2 separate regions of the Homo sapiens genome follow, and region 1 is linked to region 2. The links come from fine-mapping of genetic effects on gene expression. A gene starts in region 2. The other region holds a variant in brackets. All regions are shown on one strand. Distances are from middle to middle. Region 1 overlaps PCBP1-AS1 (PCBP1 antisense RNA 1). Region 2 holds the start of ASPRV1 (aspartic peptidase retroviral like 1).

The links. PIP is the estimated chance that this variant, and not a neighbour inherited with it, causes the effect.
Region 1: its variant is fine-mapped to the expression of ASPRV1 in whole blood (TOPMed, PIP 0.99).

Annotation. Positions count from the first base shown.
Region 1 is chr2:70,069,126-70,081,309 of GRCh38, forward strand. The region is part of intron 4 of PCBP1-AS1 (PCBP1 antisense RNA 1); the gene reads right to left. It also overlaps a transcript of ASPRV1 not described here and the pseudogene RN7SL470P. Among named protein-coding and RNA genes, the nearest start is that of PCBP1-AS1, 12 kb to the right of the region's middle. RefSeq lists enhancers at 206-285, 1,732-2,026, 1,964-2,033. The variant G/A (reference allele first, on the strand shown) is at 6,436.
Region 2 is chr2:69,954,394-69,966,577 of GRCh38, forward strand. ASPRV1 (aspartic peptidase retroviral like 1) reads right to left here and starts at 7,238. Exons shown (of 1, transcript NM_152792.4): 1 at 5,696-7,238. The coding sequence starts at 7,043. The coding sequence ends at 6,264. PCBP1-AS1 (PCBP1 antisense RNA 1) reads right to left here. Exons shown (of 11, transcript NR_033872.1): 10 at 9,838-10,034; 11 at 7,870-9,107. It overlaps LOC124906177 (small nucleolar RNA U13), which reads left to right and starts at 1,252; the gene lies at 1,252-1,354. RefSeq lists a silencer at 7,124-7,418.

The DNA.
Region 1 (12,184 bases), 110 kb after region 2:
CTGATTCACCATCAATTAATCTGTATCACAGCCTGCTGAGCCTCACACCTCACACAGTCACACACTAGACAGCTCTGGGGGAAAAAAACAACCCAAGGTGAGCTGTCAAAGTCCTCTTCGTAACCTGACCTCGCCCTCTGGGGTAGGTTTCATTTCAAAACTGAAAGGGACTGAAGGGCTGGGGAAATCCAAAGATCAACAGAGCCAGGAACAGGTGGTTCCCACAGAAGCATCCCAGGTTGGAACTCAAAACAGAAACCAGACCACTGATAAGACATGGTTTATGATGTCTGTCTCCAAGCCTTCGGATGCCATTTATATGTTTTTGATATTTACAATAGGGCATGACCACATTTATCCAACTCCTGACTACTAAAAATCTAATTCTCCAAGTGCTCAAGCAACTTCCTGGTTTTATTACATTTTAGAGCTTCGGGGTAGCTCAATAACTGAGATACCAGGGAACTTGCGAATTCTTTAGCCCTTCAAATGGGCCACAAATAATGAATTTTATCTCTTCTTCCTTCTTCATCTCCCCACAAAGGCTTGGCAAAATTCCTGTCTCACTAAAAAGTTTCTAAGTTGTTCATAATGGCCCTCTCAATGGAGCAATATTCAATACACAAAAGTCTAGTTCATCAAAGGAGTCAGGTTATTTGCTTGAGGTTCATCTGTAACTAGCTATATGAGCTTGGACAAGTCACTTCACCTTTCTGAGTTCTATAAAGTAAGGAGGTTGGAAAAAAAAAGAAAGGGAAGCAATAAAACAACCTTGAACAGAAAAAAGACTTTAAGTTTTTAAGTCTAAAAGGCTCATCAAGTGCCAACAAGTGTTATTTTTAAAAGGCATACACCTCAGCCTGGCCAACACGGCGAAACCTCATCTCTACTAAAAATACAAAAATGAGCCAGGCGTGGTGGCACGCATCTGTAATCCCAGCTACTCGGGAGGCTGAAGCAGAAGAATCGCTTGAACCCAGGAGGCAGAAGTTGCAGTGAGCTGGGATCGTGCCATTGCACTCCAGACTGGGTAACATGAGCAAGACTCCATCTCAAAAAAAAAAAAAAAAAAAAAAAAGACATACCAGAAGCATACCACAGGAAACTCTAAGCATAAATAAAAATTCACAAACTTCCAGAACAAGAGAACAGATTATTACTTACAAGGAAAAAAAATCCCATTGGACTTCTCATCTGTATCACCAGAAACTCAAAACACTGGAAAGCTACTTAGACTTTGTCGAGACTAGGACTAGTATTCCAAGAATTCTAAACCTAACCACAATATCATTCATACACGAAGGTTAAAAAGAAATTGGACATAAAAAGACTTTGAAAGTACCACTCATGCCCCCCTTCTAAGAAAATCACTCAAAGAAATGTCCTACTTGGCTGGAAGTGGTGGCTCACGCCTGTAATCCCACCACTTTGGGAGGTCAAGGCGGGCGATCATGAGGTCAGTAGGTCGAGACCAGCCTAACAGTGCAAAATCCTGTCTCTACTAAAAAAATAAAATACAAAAATTAGCTGGGCACAGTGGCGCACGCCTGTAGGAGGCTGAGGCAGGAGAATCGCTTGAACCCGGGAGGCGGAGGCTGCAGTGAGCCGAGATTGTGCCATTGCACTCCAGCCTGGGTGACAGAGTGAGACTCCGTATCAAAAAAAAAAAAAAAAAAAAAAAAAGGAAATGTCCCAGGCAATTAACATTTAACTGTAACAAAGCCAGGAAAGACAAACTATATAAAAAACATGTTTCCCCTCCCCAACAAAAACCTTTTAATGAGTTTGGACCAGATGACTTCGAATGGCCTTTCCAAGTATAAACAGAAACTGCCCTGTACACCACAGTCCCTGGCAGTCTGGGTTTGTGAGTTGTTCATCACCTAGTGGCCTGATGAAGTAAATGCAGTTTGTCAAGTGCCCGGATAAACTTCCAGCCATTTTGTGAGCTCTGATGGCGTATGCAGCAGGGCAGCAGCCTGACCTCCTAATGATTACAAGAGTAGGAGACTGCAAACCCTCCAAACTCACAGACAATTGTAAAGACTTAGCTCACCATCAATTCATTCTTCAAGGAGGAAAGGAAAGCATACTCACCTTGTAACTAAATAATCCTAAGTGAAGCACAGATTTGTCAGACTGCATTTACAAAGTAGGGAGAAGTAGAAATTGTTTCTGTGCAGAATGATCTGAACTGAAAGCAAGTTTAGGTATTAGGATAAACTGCAAATATGTCTTACACATAGGAAGACTGTCTTCAAAGGTTCATGAGTTTGCATGTGGAAGATGTATTACATTTATTCTGTATAGTTCCGGGGTACTGGTCTAAAATTAGGCCGGGCACAGTGCCTCACGCCTGTAATCCCAGCACTTTGGGAGGCTGAGGTGGGAGGATCACCTGAGGTCAGGAGTTCCAGACCAGCTTGGCCAACATGGTGAAACCCCATCTCTACTAAAAATATAAAAATTAGCCAGGCGTAGTGGCACACACCTGTAATCCCAGCTACTCAGGAGGCCAAGGCAGAAGAATCACTTGAACCCAGGAGGTGGAGGTTGCAGTGAGCCGATATCGTGCCACTGCACTCCAGCCTGGGTGACAGAGTGGGACTCCGTCTCAAATATAAATAAATAAAAACAAAAATTAAATTAATGAGAAGTCTCAATTAGATTTCAATTCAAAACAAGAAATAATTTTCAGCAGGGCACAGTGGCTCATGCCTGTAATCCCAGCACTTTGGGAGGCCAAGGCGGGAGGACTGATTGAGGTCAGGAGTCCAAGACCAACCCAGGCAACATAGCGAGACCCAGTCTCTACAAAAATTTTTCTTTCTTTTTTTTTTTTATGAGAAAGAGTCTCGCTCTATTGCCCAGGCTGGAGTGCAGTGGCACGATCTCAGCTCACTGCTACCTCTGCCTCCTGGGTTCAAGCAATTCTCATGCCTCAGCCTCCCGAGTAGGTAGGATCACAGATGTGAACCACCATGCCCAGCTAACTTTTGTATTTTTAGTAGAGATGGGGTTTCGCCACATTGGCCAGTCTGGTCTCAAACTCCTGGCCTCAAGTGATCCACCCACCTCGGCCTCCCAAAGTGCTGGGATTACAGGTGTGAGCCACTGCACCCAGCCTCTACAGAAAATTTTTAGAATTAGCCTGGTGTGGTGGCACACAGTAGTCCCAGCTACTCAGAAGACTGAGGCAGGGGGATCACTTGAGCCCAGGAGTTCAAGGCTACAGTAAGCTATGATCACACCACTGCACTCTAGCCTGGGTGACAAAGCAAGACCCTATCTCTTAAAAATAAAAAAAGGCCAGGTGGCTGGGCGCAGTGGCTCACGCCTGTAATCCCAGCACTTTGGGAGGCCGAGGCGGGAGGATCACTTGAGGTCAGGAGTTTGAGACCAGCCTAGCCAACATGATGAAACCTGTCTCTACTAAAAATAAAAAAATTAGCCAGGCATGATGGTGAGTGCCTGTACTCCCAGCTACTGGGGAGGCTGAGGCAGGAGAATCACTTGAACTCAGGAGGCAGAGGTTGCAGTAAGCCAATATTGTGCCACTGCACTCTGTCCTGGGCGACAGAGCAAGATTTCGTCTCAAAAATAAAATGAAATAAAATAAAATAAAAACAAAAATAATAATTTTTTGCAGGGCATGGTGGCTCATGCCTGTAATCCCAGCACTTCAGGAGGTCAAGGCAGAAGGATCACTTGACCCCAGGAATTCGAGACCAGTCTGAACAATATAGTGAAACCTTGTCTCTATAAAAAACTAAAAAAAAAAAAAAAAAAAACAGCCGGGCATGGTGGCATGTGCCTGTAGTCCCAGCTACTCGGAGAAGGGAGAAGCTGAGGGGGAGGATCGCTTGTGCCAGGGAGGTTGAGGCTGCAGTGAGCTGTAATCCAACACTGCACTCCAGCCTGTGTGACAGAGCAAGACCCTATCTCAAAAAATTATGATTATATTTCTACCAATGAGAGCTTTTCAACAACGATGTCCTAAGAACTGATGAGCTCCCCTATTAATGGAGGTATTCAAAGAGAACTTGAAAGATCATTTGTCAGGAGAATGATAGAAAACATTCCTGTAATTGGATGGCAGGCTGGAGACAAGGAGACTGCATAAAATTACTTCAAAGGCTCTTTTCAGCTCCAAGAGTTTTTATTCTAAATAAAAACAAAACAAACAAAAACCACTAATAAATAACTAAGAAGTCCCTCTTCTATTTTTTTAAATATCCAACCAGGCAGTACAACTTAGTAGCTAAAAGTACGGGTTTGATACTACTTTCTCTTGAGTAAATCTGGACAAATTACTTAACTCTACTTGCCTCTGTTTAGAATAAGAGTACCTATTTTGTAAGATTACTGTGAAGATTAAATGATACTTCATTTAATCTTTAACGATACTTAACGATACTTTGTTAAGTATTTAAAACAGTGTCTGACACATGAATGTGTTTAAAACTAGCAGCTTAACAAGGAAAGAAAAAGGAAAGGTGGAGATGGGAGAAAGGCAAGGAATGAAACCTAAATGTGCGGCTTGTTTTCATTATGTGTACCCAAGCCTCAACCAAAGCATTGCTGGCTGTTGCTGGCCAGAGGCTGGGTTCCCTTGGCAACCAGCCTCAAAAAAGAACCTAGATCTACCTTCTTCAGGGAGACGGCTCATCCCTTGCCCTAGAATCTGGCATCTTCCCTGCACAAGGCAGACTCTCTAAGAACTCACAGCCAGGTGCGGTGACTCACACCTGTAATCCCAGCACTTTGGGAGGCCGAAATGGGCAGATCACGAGGTCAGGAGATGGAGACCATCCTGGCTAACACGGTGAAATCCCATCTCTACTAAAAATACAAAAAAATTAGCCGGGCATGGTGGCGGGCGCCTGTAGTCCCAGCTACTCGGGAGGGTGAGGCAGGAGAATGGCGTGAACCCAGGAGGCGGAGCTTGCAGTGAGCCGAGATCTCGCCACTGCACTCCAGCCCGGGCGACAGAGCAAAACTTCATCTCAAAAAAAAAAAAAAAAAAAAAAAAAAACAGAAATCACAAATACCATTGCCCCAAACTCAAGGAGCTAAGCAGGTGTTAAGCAGGTGTTACTCTTACTTCCTATGATCAATTACAGAACATCAGAGTTCAAAGAGACTTCAGAGGCCATCTAGAGCAACTGCTTTTTTTTTTTGGAGACAGAGTCTTGCTCTGTCGCCCAGGCTGGAGTGCAGTGGCACAATCTTGGCTCACTGCAACCTCTGCCTCCTGGGTTCACGCGATTCTCCTGCCTCAGCCTCCCGAGTAGCTGGGACTACAGGCACACACCACCACACCTGGCCTTTTTTTGTATTTTTAGTAGAGACAGAGTTTCACCATATTGGCCAGGCTCCTGACCTCGTAATCCGCCCACCTCGACCTCCCAAAGTACTGGGATTACAGGCATGAGCCACCGCGCCTGGCCCCAACCCCTTTGTTTAATGAATAAGGACCATAAAACTAAAAAAAGTGAAGTCCTAAATATGGCAAGTTGGTGGCAGGGTCAAGTCAAGATCACAGTCCTCTTTATTCCTAGTCCAGTGGTCAAAATCTTCCCATTTTTCATATGAGAAAAACAGAGCTGGCCCTACTACTCTTATACCACACAGTCCATACTACCTACTTAACAGAGGTAAGAAAAGACTACAAGCAGTAGAGTGCAGAGGTTAAGAGCATGAACTCGGGGCCAGGCGCAGTGGCTCACGCCTATAATCCCAGCACTTTGGGAAGCCGAGGCAGGCGGATCACGAGGTCAAGAAATCGAGCATCCTGGCCAACATGGTGAAACCCTGTCTCTACTAAAAAATAGAAAAATTAGCTGGGCATGCTGGCATGCACCTGTAGTCCCAGCTACATGGGAGGCTGAGGCAGGAGAATCGCTTGAACCCAGGAGATGGAGGTGGTTGCAGTGAGCCAAGATTGCGCCCCTGCACTCCAGCCTGGCCACAGAGCAAGATAACATCTTTTTTTTTTTTTGAAACAGAGTCTCGCTCTGTCGCCCAGGCTGGAGTGCAGTGGCGCGATCTCGGCTCACTGCAATCTCCGCCTCCCGGGTTCACGCCATTCTCCTGCCTCAGCCTCCCGAGTAGCTGGGACTACAGGCGCCTGCCACTATGCCCAGCTGATTTTTTTTGTATTTTTAGTAGAGACACGGTTTCACCGTGTTAGCCAGAATGGTCAGAGCAAGACAACATCTCAAAAAAAAAAAAAAAAAAAAAGCAAGCATGAACTCAGGATGGACTGCCTTATTTAAATCCCTGCTCTACTACTTATTAACTGTGCAACTTGAAGCAAGTTTTCTAACCTCTCTTCAACTCTATAAAACGGGGATAAGAGTCACCATGAGGTTATTTTTAAGGATTAAATGAGATAATCCATGTAGAGTACATAGCATGTAGAAAATTCTCAAC[G/A]TGTGGCCAGGCACAGTGGCTCACGCCTGTAATCCCAGCACTTAGGGAGGCTGAGGCAGGCAGATCACCTGAGGCTGGGAGTTCAAGACCAGCCTGAGGAACATCGAGAAACCCTGTCTCTACTAAAAATACAAAATTAGCCGGGCTTGGTGTCACATGCCCGTAATCCCAGCTACTACTTGGGAGGCTGAGGCAGGAGAATTGCCTGAACCCGGGAGGCGGAGGTTGCGGTGAGGTGAGATCACGCCATTGCATTCCAGCCTGGGCAACAAGAGCAAAACTCCGTCTCAAAGAAAAAAAAAAAAGAAAATTCTCAATGTGTATGCTGTTCTGCTTCTCATCATTACCAGTCATGTGAAAAAATAAACAAGCATAATAACAAGAGAGGCCGGACAAGCTCTTACTTATGGTCCAAAAAGCACTGAGACATAGGTGTTTGTTTAGCTCCATTTCCCGGTCCAGGGAACACCCAATCCCTCAGCAGGAGAAGAATATAACTAACCTATCATTCATGTCTTTGGATCTAGGGAAGAATCAATTCAGAGAATAATCGAGGCACATGCTACACTGATAAGATGCTTAAGATCACAATGAAGGTTAGGTAAGTCAGAACTCAAGCCTGACCTTTACCCCTACACTCAAGTTTGACAAGATGCAGTTTTTGCCCAGTCTTCCTCTCAACCTACTAAGGTGATGCAGCGTAATGGTTAGCAAAAGCTCTGGAGTTTGACTGCCTGGGTGCAAACTAATTCCGTCATTTATATGCTGTGTGACTTACACAAATTACTTTATTTACCTTATTTCTCTAAGCCTTTGTTTATCCATCTTTTAAATGAGAATAACAACTATTTTAATTTTTATGATAATAGCTGACATTTGGTAAGCACTTTCTATGTGCCAAGCACTATGCTAAGCACTTTACATAGCTGATGGCATTTAACCGTCACCACCATCTTAGGAGGCAGGTATTATCATTATCCTCATTGTACAAATACAGATGTTCCTTGACTTATGATGAGGTTACATCTCGAATACCGTAAGTCAAAAACATATTTGATACACTTAGCCTACCAAACATCATAGCTCAGCCTAGACTATCTTAAATATGCTCAGAACACTTAACATTAGCCTCTAGCTTGGCAAAATCATCTAATACAATGCCTATTATAAACTTGAATATCTCATGTAATTTATTAAACACAGTACAGTGTGCAGTATTGGTTGTTTGCCTTCATGACTGCACGGCTGAGTGGGAGCTGCAGCTTGTTGCTGCAGCCCAGCATCATGAGAACGTGTCAGTAGGCCAGGAAAATATCAAAATTAAGAATTTCAAGTGCAGTTTCTAATTAACATATATGGCTTTTGCATCATCGTAAAGTTGAAAATTGTAAGTCAAACCACTGTAAGTCAGGGACTATCCGTACAAATGAGGCACAGTTTTCTTGTTCAAGGCCACACAGTCAGTTACCGGCAAAACTTAGGTGTCAAAGCAGGAGGTCCGACCCCATAGTCTATGCTCCTCACTCCTACTACACTGGCTCTACTTCTCATAGTACCGGAATCATATGGTTGTCAGAAGATGGCAACCAACATAAAGTTCTTAGCACAGTGCCCGGTTCATCAAAGCTGGCCATTACTATTATTTTTGTTATCATCATTATCAATCCCTTTAAGCCTCTCCCAAAGATTACTACCTCCTAAGTTCCAATTTCATCTAAAAGGAAAGGGTTGTTTTCTTACCTAGCTACCACCTCACTGAGTAGCTGGGAGTGGGGCTGCAGTCTTTTTATTTCATTTCCTTCATGTAATACAGGATAAGTACTTGGGTGGAGAAAAAGGGAAATATTTATTGGAAACATGTTACTCTATAAAAAGCAATATTCTAAAGTCTTTGTTTTTAAAAATAAAACCTTTATTACCTTCATTAGGAAAAAAAACCATACACTTATTATGAAACTTTTTTTCAAAATAAAGCAGAGATAAATAGTATTTACTTTAAACAGAAACTGTCAGCCAGGCACAGTGGCTCACACCTGTAATCCCAGCACTTTGGGAGGCCGAGGTGGGCAGATCACCCGATGTCAGGAGTTCGAGACCAGCCTGGCCAACATGGTGAAACCCCGCCTCTACTATAAACACAAAATATTATCTGGGCATGGTGGCGTCCGCCTGCTGTCCCAGCTACACAGGAGGCTGAGGCAGGAGAATCACTTGAATACGGGAGGCAGAGGTTGCAATGAGCTGAGACGACGCCATTGCACTCCAGCCTGGACAACAAGAGCGAAACTCTGTCTCAAAAAAAATAAAATAAAAATTAAATAAATTAGCCGGGCGTGGTGGCTCACACCTATAATCCCAGCACTCTGGGAGGCGGAGGTGGGGTGGATCATGAGGTCAGGAGTTTGAGACCAGCCTGACCAACATGATGAAACCTCGTCTCTACTAAAAATACAAAAATTAGCCAGGCGTGGTGGCACACGCCTGTAATCCCAGCTACTCAGGAGGCTGAGGCAGGAGACCCGGGAGGCGGAAGCTGCACTGAGCCGAGATCGCGCCACTGCACTCCAGCCTGGGCGACAGAGCAAGACTCTGTTTCAAAAAAAATAATAATTAAATAAATTTATTCATTCAGCTCCTATGTTACAAGCACTGTTCTAGCAGTGGGGCTATAGCAATGAGCAAAACAAAGTCCTAACCATCATGAAATTTACATTCTAGTGGGTGGTGACATGTAATAAACTATGGTAGAGAGTCCCTAGAACACAATGCCTGGCACAAGCAGACAGCACTCAATAAATACTTGCTAAATAATGAACAATGAATGAATAAACAATATGTCAAATAGCAAGTGCTATGCAGAAAAAACAGGGAAGGGGAGCAGAGAAAGCAGAAGGCAGAGAGATAGCTTTTATTTTAAACAAGGCAGTTAAGGTATATTTCACTGATTAAGTGACAGTTGAGCAGAAACCTGAAGGAGATAAGGGAGAAGGCCATACTGACATCTGGAAAAATGATGTTCCTGGCAGAAAAAGCAACTACAAAGGCCCCAAGGCCTGGCATGCTGGAGCAACTGCAAAGGAGACCATTGTGGCTACAGCACAAGGGGAAGTGGTAGGAAATGAAGTCAGAGCAGCTGGGAGAGAGTGGTGTGAATCCTACATGGTCTTATAGACCATGGTAGGGACACTACCTTTTAATCCAGGTGGGATTTTAATCTGGGCACCCAGGTGACAGTTTTCAGCAAAGCAGTGACTTGATCTGATATATACTTAAAAGGATTATTCTGGTCACTGTTAAAATTAGATTGAGGGGGCAAAGAGCAAAAGGAGGAAGACCACTTAGAAAGCTATTCCAGTAGCAGCAGGGCAGGTGGTGGGAAGTGTTTAAATACTGGATATATCTTAAGGTGAAGTTGACAGGACCTGCTGGTGGATTGGATGAAGAGAATGAAAAAACAGATTTAAGGGAGACTCTCTATATATTCAATACACAGATGAATAGCAACTCTGAAATGGGGAGGACCTTCCAGAGATGCAGATTTGAGAGGAGATGTTCTGAAGTTTTTTAATAAGTTCAACAAACTATTAGACACCCAAGTGGAGATATCCAGTGAATAGTTGGATATAAGTCTTGAGTTCAGGGAAAGACATTCAAGCTAATAATGTAAACTCATGAATTGTCAGGGAATAACGGCATTTAAAGTCTTGATCGAATCCAGCCTCAGCAACATTGTGAGACCCTGTCTCTACAAAAAAAAAAATAATAAATTAGCCAGGCATGGTGGTGGGTACCTGTAGTACTAGCCACTGAGGAGGGGAGGGAGGATTTCTTGAGACCAGGAATTCAAGGCTACAGTCAACTATTATCATGCCACTGCAGTCCGGCCTGGACAACAGAGTGAGAATCTGTCTCTAAAAAATAAAGTCCTGAAAGAGAGCACCTAGGAAAAGAGTGTAGACAGAGAAGGGATCCAAGGACTGCTCTGAGTACTCCACCAATGGAGAGTGAGGAGATGAAGAATAAGAAAAAAAAAGTTGAGAAGGAGGAACCAGTGAGGCAGGAACAGCATCAAGGGAGTGACATCCTGGAAGACAAGTGAAGCTAGGGTGCAACAGAGTATCAAATGCTACTGAGATATCAAGAATAAAAATGGGTGAGAAATGACCACTGACTCTACATACATTTTCTAAACCTGTTCTTTCCTATTCCACGCATAACACTTTTCTTCTCTTTTAATCCACATAAAAATCCCAGTACTATCCAATGAACACACAGAAGGGTTCTATTTAATTCAGCTATATCCGTGTCTCAGAAATACAAAAAGCAAAAATCAATGCTCTTAATCGGGACACAACAAATATTACACAGTGAATAATGTTGAACAAATGCTTTGTCTGGTTGAAGTAACTGTCTCTCTGAAACAAAATCCGTTAAGTCTTGCTTGTGCTTAGTAAGTGGGATCAGAGAAATGAGTTATTTAAATGTATTTTTTTTGTTCTGCATAAAGTAGCAATCATTCTTGAACTCCTTTCTCTCCCCTCTAACTCAAACCTCCTAACCAGCTTAACAAAGACCCTAAATTTCCATACATACCCCTCCTCAAAAACAAAGCAAAACATGGTAAGATTCAGAAGTTAGAGAGAAAGGAGTAGGCTGTGCCCTGCCCCTTCTGTTTTTTTTTTTTTGAGACAGTTTCACTCTTGTTGCCTGGGCTGAAGTGCAATGGCACCATCTTGGGTCACTGCAACCTCCGCCTCCCAGGTTCAAGCAATTCTCCTACCTCAGCCACCCAAGTAGCTGGGATTGTAGGCATGTGCCACCACACTCAGCTAATTTTTGTATTTTTAGTAGAGACAGGGTTTCACCACGTTGGCCAGGCTGGTCTCGAACTCCTGACCTCAGGTGATCTGCCCGCCTCGGCCGCCCAAAGTGCTGGGATTACAGGCGTGAGCCACTGTGCCCGGCCACCCCTTCTTTTTTTTATAGGACAGAGAGTTATCAATCATTTGCTAACTCAAAGGTCAGGTTTAATTTACATTTTCTCCTTAGAATCTCTGGACAGGAAGTATAATTTCTGATGTCTTCACCTTAAAAGAGAATTATTGCTATAAAATAAAGCCTTTAACTTTCTGTGCTCTAGCAAGTATAGTCAAATCTCAATAATATACACTAGTGAAGTAGCAAAACAATAGTCACCAAAAACTGGATAATGTAAACATCCTTCATTCATATCTTTCTGAAATGACTACAACTTCTCAATTGACTGTGCTTTCTTTGACTTCAGGCCTTTGCTTCCTCTGCCTGGAATACCCTTCCCTGTCCTCCACTTTGCAGTCTGCTAGTTTGAAACTCCTTACCTCAACCTGCCCAGCAGCTGGGCTAACTGTTTTGGTAGACACAGGGGCTCCCTATGTTGCCCGGGCTTGTCTTGAATTCGTAGGCTCAAACAATCCTCCTGCCTCTGCGCCCAAAGTGCAGGGATTACAGGTGTGAGCCACCACACCCAGCTATACCAACCCCAACACATTTCTTACATTTCTCAGAGAACCAAGAAGTGATCTCCTAACAGCAGTGCAGGGTCACCAGCATATGAGGTCAAATTGTTACTATCTACAATATGGGTAAGATACATTGCTTGGAAGTGCCTGTTTCTGGCTTCTGGCTGGAGGCTCACTTCCCAGCCTGGCATTTATTTATGAGAAATAAAGCTCTCCTTTCCAAATAAAAAAATTTTCCATCCTGGCTAACA
Region 2 (12,184 bases):
GCTTCTTAGATCCAGATATACCATTGGCAGATACATTTGCATCGCAGAGGTGGTGGTTGTTTCCTCCAAGAATATTAATAAACTTAAAACACACTTTTGAATTGAGTGCATTTTAGAGCTGAAATAAAAGCAGCATCTCCTTCCCTGGTCTCCTGGAGTTTCCTCAAAGTCCATATGAGAGGATCCATGCTGGCCCCCGTCTTCTCCTCCTGTCTCTGTTAGCCAACACCAGCAGGCTTGTCCTTGCCTCCCTGTTTTCTTCCCTTTCCTCCCTCCACCCCAAATATTCCCGGGAAACATCCATTCATTCATCTTTAAAGACTCAACTTAAAGATCTCTAGGGAGCTGTCCCTGACTGCACAATGTCCCACCCAGCACAGGAGTGGGGAGGAGGTCACAGCACAGGGTCACTCTAAGCCCTGCCTGCCTCCCTCTCCCAGACTGTCCTAGAGGACAGGGCTCCCTTCACGTCCTTCCTAGTGCAGGGAGAGGCTCTGCTAGGAACTCCTAGAGACAGGAAGAGCACCACATGTGCCTTGGAGAAGTCACCACAGTCCAGCTCAGAGTTACACAGTTCTCCAGGCTTGGGGGTTACTGACCCACAATATCAAGCAGTCAAAACTTGAGAGCCAATTGATTAGCCCACAGTGAAAAGCATAACAGCTTTTCTTGCTACCCAGCCAAGAGGCTTCCTTACCCGAGGTTACTTGGCAACGGTGGACTCAATACAGGAGCAGTGACTGATGGGCCTGGAACGTGGGGTGGCGTCATGTCTGACAGCTGCCCCAGTATCTCCTCAGTGTAGAGGACCAGGTGGGCAGACCAGGTCACCTCCCTGGAGCGTGGAGGCTGGCCCTTCCCTCGCATGGCCACAAGGGCAGGACTCATGGCCTTCAGTCTATGACTCCAGCTGCCCTCTTGATGGACACATCGTGTCCTCAGATAAGGACACACCTTGACACTGGCCCTCGAGGCACTCCCTGCACACCTGGGAGACCTCCACTCTCCCGCCAGCAGCTGCGCTCGGCTTCCTCATTTGTCTTTCTCATTTGCTGCCAATGGCCACCCACACCTGGCACTGGGTGGGAGATCTGAATGAGTGGGCGCTCCTAAGCTTCTCTTCCATAGGTGCATGGGTTAGCAATTCGGAAACAACTTTCTGGGTATTTTAGAACTGGGCAAATAAGTAACCTGGAGCCAGGTTTCTCATTATTAGAGAAAGAAGTCACAAATCTCAAGGGGAAGGTTACGATCCTTTTGTAGCTTGTAAGCGTGATGATTGGATGTTTGCAGGAGCGTGTGTGATGTGCCACCTCGCACCTTGCTACAACATCGGCACAGTAGCTGTGTGACATGAGAAATAATAAATAAAGGGGAAGGTTAGACTAAGTCCTAGAGTGTGGGGTTGGAATTGGAAGTATCAGCAGGAACTCATAATAGAGAGAGGGAGAGAGAGAAATATAGAGAAGTGGACTCTATGGTTTTCTTCTTAGCTCTGACCACTGAGAGGTCCTAGGAGTGATGGCATGCCAGTAGCAAGAAGCACACACACCTGACACCCAGATCCTTGTTTCTGAATATCAGACCCCACTCAAAGGAACCAGAGCTCCTGGAGAAATGGCTGATCCCAGGGCTGGTACAGGGAAGGGACAAGATGAGCCTGGAACATCTTGTGCCAGAAAATAAGGAAGGGCTCTTATGATGATGGGGACACGTCCCAAGGAGACAGGAGCCAGTTTGAAGCTGTCCCCATGGCCAAATCTAAAACAATTTGAGCATCAAAATAAATAATGATTGTAAATGAGTATAACTCATAGAAAAATAAGAATCTCTAAGTCCACATGGTATAAATCAACCAATAAATGAGTAGAGAAAGCTCTTCTGTAGAGTTGAGGGCCAGCTAATAGGTATAGAAGGATAGAATTAGTCCTGTAAGCCCAGCTACTTTGGAGGCTGAGTCAGGAGGATCACTTGAGCCCAGGAGTTTGAGACCAGCTAGGGCAAAAAAGCAAGACCCTGTGAAGAAGAAAGAAGAAAGAAGAAGGAGAAGGAGAAGAGGAAGAAGAAGAAGAAGAAGAAGAAGAAAAGAGGAAGAAGAAGAAGAAAGCAGAGGAGGAGGGGAGGAGGAGGAGGAGAAGGAGGAGGAGGAGAAGAAGAAGAAGGAGATTAGAAAATCACCATCATTTGGTAATTTGGTAATATCACAGTGACAATTCAGACAAAGATCACCAATGGGTGCTGAGGCTAGTGGTGACAGTCTTATGAGAAACAAGATATTTATATGGCTTCAGAGTGTCTCCCCACAAGACACTTACTCATGACGGGGGTAAAATAGTTATTTATGGAGTAAAAACCTGGCAAACAGCATTTTGACCAAGTGATGAAACAAGTCGGCAACATATGCCTCCTGATACGATGTACTGAGGATGCACCATCACTTCTGGGTATTCCTGCCCGAAACCCACAGCCCGAATCTCACCACAACTGAACATCAGATTCAGCCAAACTGAGGAACATTCTACAGAATAACTGGCCAGGCGTCCTCAAAACTATCAGGGTCATGAAAACAAAGACAGAGGAATTACTCAGATTAAAGGAGATGAAAGAGACACGGCAACTAAATGCAATATGTAGCTGAATTCAGTCCTGGACTAGAAAATAATCTGGGGGCCAACAATGTTCTTGTTGGGATAATTGGAACCATTGGAGTAAGATCTGAAGATCAGATGATAGTGGTATTACATCAGTGAACTTCCTGATTTTGATAACTGCATCATGGTTATATAAGAGAATGCCCTTGTTGTTGTTGTTGTTTTCCCCTAGGAAATATACACTGAAGTATTTAGAGATAAAAGTGCATCATATTTGCGATTTTCAAAGGTTCCTATATATATAGATAGGAGAAAAGGAATGAGAATGAGAGAGATGATGAAGTTAATTGGAAAAATGCTAATATTTGGGGAAACTGGGTGAAACGTGGAAATTCTTTGTACTGCTCTTGCAACTTTCCTGTTAGTCTCAAATTAAGACTTAAAGATTTTCTGGATAAAAGCATAAAGAATTATCTAGTATGGTCTGGGGAACTGGCATGCATTCAGTTTGTGGTGGTCATTATTAGAGAAGAAGGCAGCTTGTAGGGCCCCCTTAACTAGAGGTATTAGAATGTTCTAGGCCAGGGCTTTTCAAACTCTTATGTCCCCTAGAATCACTTGGGGATCTTGCTCACTGCAGATTCTGGCGCTGGTCTGGGTGGGGATGGAGAGTCTGTATTCCCAACAGGCTCGCAGGTGATGCTGATGCCGCCTTCCTGCTGGTTCATGGATCACCCTTTGGGCAGTACAGGGGTAGATGCCACTGGAATTTAGACCATGGGTTCCCAAGCCTGCTGCACTTTGGGACCACTGGAGGAACTGATGTTCATGGGTCTTCTCTGGTGATTATCATGTGCTCCAAAGGCTAAACCTTCACACTGATCCTGCATCCTCCTTTCCATCATTGCAAAAGCAGACCTTAGGTATAAGGACTGCCATGGTGTCCCAGCAGAGCCTTTGCTGCTGCTTTACTCCATCCTATACCCAGAAGGCAGATGAATCTTCCTGCTCTCCCATGGTTCAAACGCCCACTGTGGGAGGCAGGTGTGAACTCCTCACCCAGACAGCAAGCCCTCTGTGGTGTGGCCACAACCCACTTTTTCTGGCTTCTCTCCCGGGCTTCTCTGTTGTTTGATACCTGACTTCCCAGAGAGCAGCTGCTCATAGTCCTGCAGCTGGGTTCCACGTTGACGCATCTGCAGCTGTGATCACTCTCACCCGCATGCAGCAGCGGTCTCAGCCTCACTCGGGTCTCCCAGTAAGAAGCACCACATGGTCCCTTCCTCCATGGGGGCCATGCTTCAGATGTCACAGACCCCACCCCTCACTGTGCCCTCTCGGGGGGCCCACATTTCTCTAGGAGAGAAAACTGGCTGAGAGCTGGAGACCTGGGGGCTCAGACAGGCTCTCCTCACTCAGAGCAGGGGAAGAAGGTGTCTGCTGCTGGGACACAGCATCCCATTTGCAATCACCCAGGACAGGGCTCCACTCCGTGTGGTGTGTGGGAAAGGGCAGGGAGGCTGGGGTATTGCTCTGGAATTCTGGCCTGGCCACCAATTCCTTAGTCCCCTCCCCAGCTCCCCACCCACCCACTTACAGACTCTTTACCCTCCCTCCTTCTACCCAGCACGTGGCTGGGATCCAAAGGACCTGGAGGAAAATAAGTCACAGGGAGGTGCCACCTGGATTGTTCCCTCGGGAGAGGGCTCGGCCCATGAGAGAGCAGCATGCGTTAGGCCACAGAGAGTGGGGCTGAAAATCAAATTTGAGAAGGGGGATGCAGGATCTGGGAGTCATCCGGAGACCACCCTTTCTCCAGTTCCCCCATCGCCTTCTCCAGTTCTCTCACCCCCTTCTCCAGTTCTCCCACCCACTTCTCTAGGCATCACTTTTCTGGAAATAGATTTCCTCCTGATCCCACACCTGTCCTTCCTCCAGGTGCCCTGGGGCTGATGGAGCTAATTTCAGTTAAGATGCTTGGCTGCCCAGGGAAGGGGCCTCGGTAAACCCCGAGGATTAGGGGCTGAGCCATGCCTCAGTTCCCAGGAGAATCACAGCTGGAATCGGAGGGAAGAAGGGGCCAGGGACGGGCAGCTGATCCTGGCTCAGATCAGCTTCAAAAAGTCCAGGGGCTTCACTCCTGCCTTCTGTCTCTCCCTCAGGAGCTGTCCAGGTGGGAACTTCAAGAGGCTCATTCCACCCTGGAGGATGGAAAATGGTCCTTCATGCCTCCATCAAGAGGTCTGGGATCCCTGCACGTTCGAGTCTCTGACCTTGCGCCAATCTTCCTGGGCCCAAAGTTTGGAGGGTGCAGGCCACCCTCCCCTGAGAACAGGCTCGCCCGATGTGCTTGGTGGGGAGGCCTGAGATTTGGAACAAACTGGCTCTTCTGTGGAGACTTTTGTCCACTCAGCTCCTCCCTTTGAGTTTCAGATTCCCAGCCCTGCTGCACTCCAGAAAAAGAAACAGAAATTTGGAAGCAAATACGAGATGGACCCCTAAAAGAGATGCACACCCCATTCCCAGATCTGGGAATGTCCTCCCCTCCATCAGGTCATCTAGTTTCAGGCTCTGTTCCAAGTCCCTCCAAGAAGAAGCTGACCTCCCACCGCCGGGACCCTGCCTTGCCACAGCCTCCCCCGTCCTCCAGCATGCCCTTGGGCTGCCCCACACAGGTCAACACTTGTCTCCTGGCCCTGCTTTCTGCCTCCAAGTTCTCGCTCCTGGACAGCTGTAAGAACCTATTTGCCCAGCAGACACTTTCCTGTTTGTTTATCATAACCATAATTTCCCAATCCCCAATCAAGACATCTCACATAAAACTTTAGGGTCACTTTTGGGTATAGAGGCAATTTGTATGCTAAAATACTACAGATTGAAATAAGTAGAGGAATTATGACGATTCAAAATAATGAGAGCAATTCTGGAGGGAATAAGTCAAAATATTTTATGCTGAGACTGTCTTAGAAAATCCAAGACCTGTCATCCCTGTGTATATGTTCTTATACCTCCAGCTAGGCACTCAGTAGACATGTGAATCTCCCTTGTCTTTGATGCTGACTCCCTCTCACATTCCTCTCATCCTCAATCAACACATTACATGGTTTTTCCATGAATCAATCTTTATTGGTGTTTGCAGCAATTGAATTATTGGCATAAGGCACAATGGGCTTCAAAGCAAATGACAGAAAGAAAATACGATTGTACAGGTGGAAAGGCTCTTCAGGGAGGTGTCCCAGAGCAACTGTGACCCTCACAAAGACCCTGCAGCTAGGACCCAGCCCAACTAAGACAGGCTTTGAGGACCTGAGAGTGACCAAGCCATACCTCAGGGAATCTGAAGGGGTCCCACAGTTCTTTCAAAGACAAGCATTTCTAGCTTCCTTGGGAGCTCTTCCAGCCTTTGAGTCTTTGTCATCAACAGCAGCTTGATGACCATGGGGACCCTGTCCCTCTAAGCCAGCCTGCTCTCCCTCACCTGTGCCTGTTCAGTGGAAGCCTCCCCTACCAGGGGCAGATTAAGGCCCCTGCAGAGGGAGGCAAAGGGGAGAGAAGAGCAAGAGTTGATAAGCAGACTGGCCAAGCCCAGTGACCCCCATGAGGATATGCAACCCCCCCCACAGCGGTGGGTCTTCCCACCAATATTTAGGAGGTTAAAGAAAAGGTGGCTTCTCAGTGGGATAGCTCCTGCCGCCCTTCTTCTGAGGAGGGGTCCTCCTCTATGAGCTCCAGGTCAAACTCATCTTCCAGGGACCCTCCCACAGGCAGAAGGCGAAACTTCTTCCCTTTCAGGGTGCATGTGCGGTGCTCAAAGTCCAGGATAGCATTGTGGTCCTGGAGCACATCAGTGCCAATGATGGCTTCCTCGGCACTCGCATTGGCCACTAGGAACTGTGCCTTCAGCTTCAGCTTGCCTAGGGACACCGCTGTATCCCAGACACCCAGGATCTTCATTTCAGCACCATTGGCCACCTTTACCACATTCTCAAAGGGCTGCAGGGTGTCCAGATCGCCATCAGTGACCTCCTCCCACAAGTTTGGGTGGACCACAGAGACCTGGGCCCCAGAGTCCACCAGGAACCTCACGGGCACTTTGCCAATCTTCCCCTTGAGATAGTAGCCCTTACCCATGCTGTTGGCAAAGACGATCTCTTTGGGCAGGTGGCTGGGGGCAGCCCCAGGGACCCCAAAGGCCTTCAGGAGGGCCTCTTTCACAGTCCCATAGTCTCCCTGGTCCTGGGGACTGAGCCTATTGTAGACACCCAGGGCCTCTCCTCTGAGGGACTCTTTCAGGAACCTTAGCTTGGTGATATGGTCCCAATGGTTGAGGTCATTGATGACTTCAAAGCTGTGCAGCCAGAGGTTTGGGACGACATTGGCCCCATCAAAAGGTTCCGGGACGAAGGCATGCTGCCGGCGGCCTTCCTCACTCCTGGCTCCGCTCCCGGCCATCCTGCTGCTCTCCTCTGGAACCTCAGCAGCAACCCACGCCAAGAAGAGAAACCCACAGAGCAGTGTCGGCGCAATCACGCTGGAAAACGGGGCCTCTCGAAGCAGAGTGGGGATGACTTGCCCGGCCTTGGGCAAGCAGGAGGGAGCAGGCGCGGTCGGCTGGCTGACTGCTGGGGCAGAGGCAGGCAGTGCTGTGGCCTGTTCACTCTGCAGAGCCTTTTTGATGCCTAGGCTGGCCCCTGGGCTCCCCATTCTCCTTTGTTCTGGAAGCTCCGCCCCTCCTCACCCCGCCCTCCTGCCAGCATCCGGCCGGACTAGCAGGATGGGTGCCTCACCCTCTGCATCCATCCTTGGACCAACACCAGCCAGCCCACATCCCAAGAAAGGCCAGCCTCTGTTGAAGGGGGACTACCCTGTACCCTCCCTGGCCTGTGTTCCAGAATAACAGATGAGGACACGGAGGATGTGATGACATTCAGGTATTTGTCATCAGCCAGTGAAGGAAGGGGAGGCAGGGACCAGACGCCCATCAGCTCAGAGACCGGGGAAGCCGCCATTGGCCTCCCCAACAAGTGACTACTTTGAGTGGTCAAAGGAAAACAGTTTACATGTACTGAGCTCCTACCACATGCCAGGCACTGGGAAGTGTCTCACACACATTCTAAAGCAGGTATGGGATCCTATGGGATTTCCTGGAGAGGGAGGCAGAGGAGGGTTCCAGCATAAAGAATGCACAGAAATGGTCTTTTTTAAGTGAGTGAGGACACACACACACACACACACACACACACACACGTGCACAATCATCTTACATGGACTCAACTGCTGCAGTAATTTTCCTTCATTGATCACCCCTGATTCAGAGGCAGAGGGGTGGCCAAGCAACTCTGGGTAGGCCCCATACTGCACTCCATGAGCATTGTCTCCACCCTATCCACCCCTCTCCATTTCCAGGAACTGTTCCAGGGCCCCTTCCCCAGGCACTGCAGCACTTCCTCTCCCACTCCCCAAGCTGGTCATTTGTGGAAAGATCACGGGAAATTTCACTCCCTTTTCATTCTGAGAGGGAAAATGTCCACTATGTTGGTGATGCCAGTGGTGAGGACCTGGAGGGCTCTGGCTCTGTGCCCCTCGCTGCAGGGGTAAAGGGTAGCACGGGAGGACATCCAGTCGTCTACAGAGGACATCTGTGAGTCCAAGGGCTGGAGGCCTGACTTGGGGCTGTGCAGGGGCTGTTGAAGGGATCCACTTTTATGTCCCCATTCAAAGGTCACTCCATGGAGCCTTCTGCCTGTCCCTAGAAAGGGCACCCACTCCTCGTTGAGCGTGTTTTACGGTGTGATCTGGTGGTTTGTTCACAAGTCTGCCTCTTGCTATGAACCAGAGTCTGGGGCTCACAAACCTGGCATTTGTGATTGTCTCCAGCCCCCAGAACAACTTCCTCTGGGACCCAGGGGCTCTTTGCTGGGCTCCAGGCCTAGCTGTGTGCTGTCACCAAACAGGAGTGATTAAGGATGGGAGAGGAGGAAGACTCGATGGCACACCTGTGGCTCTGGGGCTGTTTTTCCTGGCCAAGAGCCTGTCCCTCTTCAGCTCCCTATGCCATGCATCACCCAGTGCCTGGCGGAATCCCAGCAGTACCCTGCCTTTGGACAGTCCTGCCTCTGGATGGCCCAGGTCCCCAACCACAATGCAAGACTGTGCTGTCCCCAGCCCCTTCCACCTGATTCAGTGAGCCAGCAGAGAGGCAGTTGGGTCAACACCTCTCATCACAGCTGCCTGGCTAAGGTGGGGCCATTGTGGCATTCCAGGAGCCCAGAGGAGGGGAAATGGAGTCACCGAGAAGGTGTTGAGAGCAGGTGGTTCTTTGAGAAGACTGTATAATGAAAAACCTGCATCCAGAGAAATGGCCCAGCCACACGCAAGACCAGGAAGCCCTTTCTGCAGATGGACTTTTGCAGATAGCTTCCCAGCTGCTGGGATGAGTGTTGTTCTGTGGCTCAAAGAACTGATCCAGTGGTTTCCTGATTCCCTGGTATTCATTACCTCTGCACATCTGGTCCCCTGGAAGTGGAAATGAGTGAGGAGGTTAGCATGCGACCAAGGGAGGAGCGAGGCAGGTGGCTTGTCAGCTGACAAGCTGGGACTGCCAAATGCCCTGAACCGGCTTTTCAAACCATAGTGGTAGATGTTGAATTCCGATCTCCCTACTGCCCTTAGACTAGAAATCGGTGGTCCCTTGGGACCTCATTTGAGTGGGTTTGGTGTTCACATTGGCAAAGCATTTTACACACATCACCTCCATGAGGAGTATAACAACCTGGGAAGAAGACCAGCTCCGCTCCAGGACCCTGGAGCACAGGAGCTTCAATGGCCTCAGGTCCCAGGCTTTCCAGCGGCCAGAGAAGGGGATTTTGCAAGGACAGGGAGGTGAAGCGCTGGGCTGAGAGAGGTATAGCATAGGCGCCGGGGGCAGGGGTCTGGTGGGCAGTGGACAAAGAGCTGCTTGTTAAATATTCAGGAATTTGGTGAGTCAATTGTTAAACCAATTGGTACTTGAAATCAGACTTGGTGGAAGTATTTACATCACCAAAATTGGCAAATGCTAAATCAAGACTTTTTCCCCCTCTGGAATGCCAGTTCCATCACACCCCTGCATGGAAGCCTTGGTCACACTGACTCTCTAGGGCAGGCAAAGCACTGTGGCTGGTGATGAACAAGTTTATAGTAACCTCCACCCCTGCTTAGCTGCTTGGGCCCAAATCACCTCTCTCACCAAGGAGCCCAAGCCCACCTTGGCCCCATCCTTCCCCACAATCTTTAGAATTCTGTGCTGCTGTGGCTTGAGGCAGATGGCCCTTCGGGCTGTGTCTGTCCATACAGTTCCCTCTGGGACCTCCACAACAGAAACACGCAGGGGCCTCATGGTTACCGTGAGAGCTGGAAGGAGTTGGCATCAGCCTCTGGCCGAGTCTGGGAGTCTGTCTCTGGCTAGGATCAGGAACATGGGTAAAGGTCAGTTCTCAAGTTCCCTTATGCCTTGGGAGGTACCCATCCCTAGAACAGCCTGGAAGCACACAGAGACCTTGGAATGGCTACGCCAGAGGTGCCCCATGAGCTAAACCAGCCAGGGCAGGCCAGGTGCCACTACCTCCTCCCAGAACCTAGGAAATCATGGTTAATTATTGACAAGTATAGGTATTGGGGCGGGACACCCTCATTATCACCCATTAGCGTCTCCTGGGTGTACCCTGAAGCAAGCACACCGCACTGAACCCTGCAGGAGCAAAGCAGGACAATAAACAGGAAGGAGTGGGGCTCCCTACCCTCCACGCCCCCTCACTGAGATTTCTGGGCTGTGAGCTCAACCAGCCCAATTCTTTCTCAGCTCCCTGGTTCCCTTTTGCTGTTTCTTTTCTGCTGTTTTTTTGAAATTGTTTCACTTCTTATATTCACCTGGATCCTTTGCCTGCTTTAGTCTCCCTCAGGCCAGTTGGGCAAATCAAGACAAGCCCAAGACTGGGCCCATCAAGACAAGCCCAAGACTGGGCCCATCGGGCCTCCTGAGACCTGAAGCCCTTGGTGGGCAGTGAGTTCACTCCAAACACTTTATTATTTATTTATTTATTGAGATGGAGTCTCACTCTGTCGCCCAGGCTGGAGTGCAGTGGCGTGATCTCGGCTCACTGCAACCTCTGCCTCCTGGGCTCAAGCGATTCTCCTGCTTCAGCCTCCTGAGTAGCTGGGATTACACCACCACACCTGGCTAATTTTTCATATTTTTAGTAAAGACAGGTTTCACCGTGTTAGCCAGGATGGATCTCCTGACCTTGTGATCCACCCGCCTCGGCCTCCCAAAGTGCTGGGATTACAGGCGTGAGCCACCATGCCTGGCCCACCTCAAACACTTTAGACCAGGGGTCCAATTATTTGGCTTCCCTGGGCGACACCAGAATTGTCTTGGGCCATGCATAAAATACACTAACACTAACGATAGCTGGTGGGCTAAAAAAAAAACAAAAACAAAAACAAAAACAAAAACTCATAAACTCATAATGTTTTAAGAAAGTTTACAAATTTGTGTTGGGCCACATTCAAAGCGGGCAGGACACGTTTGCTTCAGATTGTTCCTGCGGCCTGACGACTTCCCAGAACACAGTGGCAGCTTGCACAGGAGCCAAGAGCTTTGACCACAGCGAGATACATTTGGAAATCCAAGGCACCTGCAGTTTCCTTATCCCCAAACCTAAACCCCCAGACCACCCATGCCTGCTCCTACCACCCAGCTGGGCACCACCCAGCATTCACAGTCAGTCATGGCCAAGGGCACACGGGCAGGACAGCTTGACCTTGACTGGACCCCCATCTTGGTCCCTGCCAAACCTCCTCAACATGAGCGTTCCTGCCACACTCCTCACCCAGTAGGCCAGTGTCACCGCTGAAGGACAGAGCTCTCCTGCCTGCAGGGCCCTTCCCCAGCTTGCCACTGTTCCAGAACCTGTTCTTCCCATTTGGGTCTCCCTCCTACCCTTCTTTGCCCCTAGCTCAGAACCCCTCTAACCAAAGTGGCCCAGCGCAGCCCACCAGCCAAATCCACTATGTCAGGAGGCAGCAAAATGCTTAATGCAAGTCCCAACCCTGGGGGGTCCTGGAGGTGTTTGGGGAGCAGTGGTCCTGGCCCCAGTGCCATTGCAAGCCTCCAGGCCTGGGGTCAAGGCCAGGACCAACCAAGAGTTGGTCAGACCAAGTTGCTGACTAACTCCTAGAAGTCCAATTTGCCAAAACCGGTTCTCCCCTGTTTTTATCTTTCAATCAAAGATGAAGATTACTAAGATGTCCTGAAGGCCTTCTCAGTCACCTCCTCAGGGCCCAGCCCTCCGAATTGGGTTTCTGCCTTTTTCCCAATTGCTGGTGCCCCCACCCTAGACCAAGCCGTCATCCTTTCCTGCCCCATCCTTGCCACGGAGGGCCAGGGCCCTGCCTGGCAAGAGGGGCTGGCTCTAAGGAAAGACCCTATGCAGATTCCCTTCCTCCCATCCCCTCTTCAGGGTCCCCTCTGCTTAACTGAGGTTGGGAGTGGGACTTGTAACACAGGTCTCCAGACAGCTTTGGGGACATTAAGTCACTTTTGACAAACACCC